Linked DNA regions of Homo sapiens: region 2 is linked to region 1. The links come from fine-mapping of genetic effects on gene expression. A gene starts in region 1. The other region holds a variant in brackets. All regions are shown on one strand. Distances are between the middles of the regions.

Region 1 (2,896 bases):
AGCTAAAGGCTGGACCCTGAGGACACTGTCCTGCCGGCTCGTCTGGAGCAGGTCAGGCCCAGCAGGGTAGGTGATAAACTCCAGCAGAATGGCCAGGGAGGGCAACGCTAGGCTGGGGAGGGAGATGGTAGGGGCCGGCCAGCCCACAAAGATGAGGGCAATCCAGGACCCCCTTGGGGTCATTTTCTCTGTGCCTGACAGGCATCCCCCGGATAGTCCCTCAGAGCACGTCCAGGCTGTGCCCACTTCCCAAGGACATCACCAAGTCACTGTCCACCCTCAGAGCACCTGCTCCTCACACACGCTGTACCCCGGACTCCCCCGGGTGCCAGGTGGGTGCTGTGCCTGCCTCTTGATTCTGGGAACCTCCTCTCCAGCCTGGTCCCTCACCAGAGGCAGCCCTTAAAGACCATCCGCCCTACCTCCTCATTTTACACTCGGGGAAACTGAGTCCCATAGAACAAACAGGCAGCCGCACCAGGCCTCCCGCTCTCAGGTATGCTCTTCCACCCCCTTCTCTGGCCTCAGGACAGCCTGAGACTGGGCAGGATCCAGAAGAAAGGGCTCTGTCCTGGTGGGGAGGGGTTCGCCCAAGGCAGTGACCGGCTCTGCCCAGGGTTCCCTGGAGTCTGGCTCTGGGGACAGGGTGAGGGGCAGACTTGCCTGTTTTCAAGAGCTGAGGGATGGGGGAGAGGATGGGGAACCTGGACCCTGGGGCAACCTCCGCTCAGGACTGTCCCACTCAGCTGCCGGTCCGTGCCTCTGCACTGGTCACTGGGTGGACGGCAGACGCATGGCATCCCAGGACACTGCACAGGGAACAGCTAGCTCCAGGTCACCTGAATGCCATTCTCAACTGGCCCTCTCCTCCCAGGGATAGGCCAGCGGGGAACGAGGAGTGACCAGAACCCAGGACTCCCGCCCTCATCTGACAGCCACTTAGCCCACTTCCCACTGGGGACTCTTCCTTGGAAGGTTGCTCTGGAAACCCCCTACTGTGTGGGGTAACCTCGCCGGGCACCCCACCCTGGCCGAGCACTGCCATGCCACACAAGAAGGATGGAACCTTCCTCCCCAAGCTGGGGTGGGGCAGGGGCTGGGGGAGATGGAAGGCCCTGCACCGCCCCCAGCCTCCCTGCCACTCCCCACACCTGGGAGATGCTCAGGACCCCCATGTAGCCACGGCCGCTCCCCCCAGCTTCTTACCAGGTCGAGGACAGATGGGGACGGACGCTGCTGCCTCGGCACCTGCTGATTAGTGCGGCCCACCCTGAGGGGCGCCCCTGTTCCCCAAGGTGGTTGGGAGGGCACTCGCGGGTCCTGGGGAAGTTGGATGGCCCTGGGAATGGCGGGTCCTGGAGGGTGCGGGAGCCTGAGGGGGAACTTGGGGGTCTTAGGTTAGACCGGGGCCTCCCCGCGTGGGGAGGGCGCAGCAGACTGTACCTGGGGGCGCATTGGCCGTCGTCAAACTCGAAGGTCCGGTTGGTGTAGCCCCCGCCGCGCGCCTCCCGGCAGACGCCCCCCGGGGTCCGCGCCCCGTCAGGGAGTGGCATGCGGCCTGGCAGCTCGGACCCGACCCGAGGGAGAAGCGAGTGGGAGCCGCCACCTTCTTCCCTCGCGTTGCCCTGAAAAACATTTTTTTTTTCCTCGCAGATTAGCGAGGAAAAGACGCCAGTTCCAGGGTCGGGTGCAGGCGTCTGTCCGCGCGCGCCCCCTGCCGGCCGCGCCGGGACCCGCGGCGGCTCTGGCCCAGGCTGGGACGGGGGTGCGGGGTAGGGAGGGCGATCCGCTCCCGCCGCGGCCCTCTGAGCCCTCAAAACTCCGAAAAACAGGACGGGGTTCGTCAATGGCTAGAAAAGCCCAAGCGCGCCGCCACCGGGCCCTACACCCCTGGGAGGGCTCCGTGGTGGGCGGGGGCTCAGGGGGCTCTGGGTCCTTGGCGGGCAGCAGGGCACATGCGCTGCTCGGACCGCCAGCGTCCAGCCGCTGCGCCCAGGGACCGTCAGCACCTCCCGCTTGTGCTGCTCTGCCGTGGTCAACACTGGTCATTGAACACAAGCCAGATTCAAGACGACTCCCCGCCCCCCCGCCCCCACACCCCCCGCAGGCTGCGGCATCTGTGGGTGGGCGCCACATCCTGGGCTTGGCCTGGGGGAGGGGGATGACTGCACCCCGCCCTGTGCTCTCACCCAGACGGGCACACACAGCACCTTTAGACGGGTGGGGAGGGGCCCCAACTTAAGATGCTGCAGGCCAAAGACTAGGAAGCAGAGGGTCCCCCTGCGGGCCCCCTTTCCCGTGCACGTGCTCACACTGTTACACATGCGTCACCCTGGCTCAGCCTCACACAGAGCTCTGGAGAACTGCGATTTCTGTCCCCAGAGCTTTGTTGGTTTGCAGGGTGGACCAGGCCCCTCACTAAGCCAGGACTGTGCCCACGAGGGCCAGGGGGAGGGCCAGGTCCATTTGGAGGGCGCATGCCATGTACTTTGTGGTCCCTGGCCTCCCCAGTGTCTCTCCAGAGGGTCCTTCCCTGTTTCTCCAGGAGGCAGCAGGCTGAACACAGATGCTTTTGAGGGGTGGGTGGGGAACACTCGGGGAAGTCTAGGATGCTAAGTCCCCAGCAGAGGTTCAGCCTGTGCCCCCGCCACACAGCTCGTGGGCATCTTGGGGGTTTTTCCTCAGGTCCCTAGATTGGCCGGTGCTGCTGCCGGGGTCCCACCACCCCTGGGCGGGTGCCGCCGGGGCAAGATGGTGGCCTTTCTGCCAACGCCCTCCTGCCTGGGGAACTCAGAAAAAACTGAGAGGCCGCACCATCTGCATCTGTGATTAATTAGCAGTAATTACACGTGTTGTCAACGGCAGGAGAGTCACAGGTTTGATGACATTCCGAGGG
Region 2 (2,896 bases), 79 kb before region 1:
GGCCAGAGAGAGACGTGGAAGGAAAGAAAAAGCTGGACGTTTCAGGACCTTCCAGAGATTTCCTCCTGCTTTCTGGACAGGAGGGCTTCAGCAGGGGCTGAGCGGGTGCCATTCACAAGTGACAGTGAAGACAGGAGCACACAGGAGCGGATGAGCCCTTCCTGAGCACGAGACCCCCGGTCAGAGGGAGCAGGACAGGCACCGTGCAGCCCCAGGATGGGCAGAGCCAGCCTGAAGGAAGGCTCCTGGTGAGGAGGAGAGATCACACAGGCTGACCATGTGAAAGCAATGAAGTGGTGGAGGAGTCCTGGGTGCTGGAGACCAGGGGAGGTGGACGGCAGGGGAGGTGGGCCTCAGGGGAGAGACTCCTCTCACACACCGGGGCTCTGAGAGCCTTCTGGAGCCAGCCCTCAAGGGGAGATGCATGTCACCCCACCAGCAGCATCCTTAATAATAGTTTCATTTTTTTGCTTGGTTTTTTTTGAGACAGGGTCTCGCTCTGTCGCCCAGCCTGGAGTGCAGTGGCACAATCTCGGCTCACTGCAACCTCTGCATCCCGGGTTCAAACAATTCTCCTGCCCTAGCCTCCCAAGTAGCTGGGGTTACAGCCACCACGCCCGGCTAATTTTTGTGTCTTTAGTAGAGAGGTTTCTCCATGTTGGCCAGCCTGGTCTCGAACTCCTGACCTCAGGTGATCCGTCCGCCTTAGCCTCCCAAAGTGCTGGGATTACAGGCATGAGCCACCGCCCCCAGCCATTAAATTTTTTGTATAGATGGGGACTTGCTATGTTGCCTGGGCTGGTCTCGAACTTCTGGCCTCAAGCGATCTTCCTGCTTCAGCCTCTAAAAGTGCTGGGATTACAGGCATGAGCCGCTGCACCTGGCAGAGCATCTCACTGACGGTCGTGTATGCCATCTCCACCTCCTCCCTTTTTCCTTCCGGAGTCGTGCCTGGAATCCTGTCTTTATCCTTCCACTGGGCCTGGATGTAGAAGATGTTGGCTGCAGGGATTTGGGGTAACTTTTCTTCAATTTTTTTTTTTTTTTACTTTCAGTATTCTTTGAAGTAAAATACATACTAAACATGTACATTTTTATAATAAATTGGCATTAATGTCTTTTAAATAAGGATCTGAAGCTGCCACAGGTGTCCTTGTTGGAAGCAGGTCACCGTATGCTGGCCCGTCAGAGAGACCCATGGGGGATCTGGGGCCAAGGCCACCCAGGCTGGAGAAGACGCAGCCCCTGGTGCCTTCTACAGGCTCCTTGCATGCTGGGGAGGCGGATCCCAGCCTCTGCAGAGGGTGATGGGTCAGGTGGTCCACGGCACCCTCTCCTCCCTCGGCTCCACGTCTCTGTATATGCCTGGCCCTGCCCAGGGCCCAGGGCATCTGTCCCACATGGACCCCAGCACCATGTCAGCCCAGAGGAGCTCACGGCTGCTTCCAGAGGCTTTGCCGATGTCCTGATTTCTCCTTGGTCCCTGTCACACAACTGCCACGGAATCGCATGACTGGAGCTGGAGCCCAGGACTGTTCACTGCTCTGAGATGGAGAGCTGGCCGCACCCGCCCCGGCAACACAGAGCCCCAGTGGAGGTGAAGCCGGGGAAAGAGATGGGCCCCACGGCGGGGCGGAGCGTGGGTGATTGGCGATGGCTGCCTGGCGGGAAGGCGGGCAGGAGCGTGTTGGCTGCGTGCTTGCTGACCCAAACTTCAAGCCACCTTGTGGGACAGAGAGGTGCAAGGCTGAGGCCGGAGGAGCCGCGCCAGGATGACTGCCTCGACCCCGACTCCACGGCAGCATCCCTGTCCACACAGGGTCAGACTTGGTCTTCCAGATCCGGAGAGTCCTCCCAGCCCTGGGGAGCGGCCCGGCACC[C/T]GAACACAGAATCCTGTGAACTTCCTCCCCTTCCGTGGTTCCAGCTGCAGAGCACACCCCTCTGCCGGCTGAGCCGGGGACTGGGGCCAGGAGCTCCCGACGCTGGGCAGGGCAGGCTCCAGGGTGGGCTTGGGCGGCGGGCAGGGCAGACAGAGCCCTCTCCTGTGCTGAGACCAGGTGCCCGAGCATCCCCCTACGCCTCAGGCTGGCATCTCTAAGGCAGAAGCCCCTGTTGACCTGGTGGCTGCCCAGCCCGGCCTCCTCTCGCTTCTCTGGGGCAGAACTGACTCCAGGATCCCTATGGGCTCTTGGTCCACGGCTGGCCGGAACACACTTTCACTCTCCATCGGGTTCAGGTGGGACAAAGCCATGTCCGTGTCGCAGGGAGTGCCCGTGTGTGTCCTCTGCCTGGTGTTGGTGGCCAGGCCGGGCCTGGCTCAGTAGATCCTCCACGGTGTCACAATCCTGCAGCCACGCAGGTCCCAGCAGCTCGCCGATGAGGACTTCAGCCCAGACCGGTGAGCTCGGGGTTCGTGTAGAGCAGACAGCATTGCTGCTGACCAAGGTGCCTGCTCCCTGCTCTCAGCCTAGGGCTGCCTGGGCACCAGCCCCCGTGTGGACAAGGTGGTGCTGTCCCAGCTTGAGCAGGTGGGGAATGCGGTGGGGCTGGGGTCAGCCAGATATCAAGGCAACAGCAACAGTGCCCGTGCCCCTGGGTTCCACACCTGACCCTGGGTGGTGCCCTTCATGGAGCTCCAAGGGCAGAAAGCCAATTCCAGCTCAGCCACTTGCTCCACTGTGCGATCCGGGGCAGGCCCCTTCCCTCTCAGGCCCTCCGTCCCTTGTCAATACAAGGAGGCAGTGGTTATACTGAACCTGTTTCAAGGTCGGGCGTAGTGGCCAGGGCAGCGGAGAAGTCTGGAATGGTGCAGCCGTGTGCGTTATCTGTACTAAGAGCTACTGGCCAACCTATGTGGAACCACCGATCTGAGGGCTCCCCACGGGAGTTCTGACCA

The links. PIP is the estimated chance that this variant, and not a neighbour inherited with it, causes the effect.
Region 2: its variant is the best candidate, but not a certain one, in a credible set for the expression of KCNT1 in hippocampus (GTEx, PIP 0.61).

The regions. Positions count from the first base shown.
Region 1 is chr9:135,700,916-135,703,811 of GRCh38, reverse strand. KCNT1 (potassium sodium-activated channel subfamily T member 1) reads right to left here and starts at 1,627. Exons shown (of 31, transcript NM_020822.3): 1 at 1,444-1,627. The coding sequence starts at 1,553. It also overlaps a transcript of SOHLH1 not described here. RefSeq lists a silencer at 1,699-1,828.
Region 2 is chr9:135,779,791-135,782,686 of GRCh38, reverse strand. All of the region lies in intron 24 of KCNT1 (potassium sodium-activated channel subfamily T member 1), which reads right to left. Among named protein-coding and RNA genes, the nearest start is that of KCNT1, 79 kb to the right of the region's middle. The variant C/T (reference allele first, on the strand shown) is at 1,881.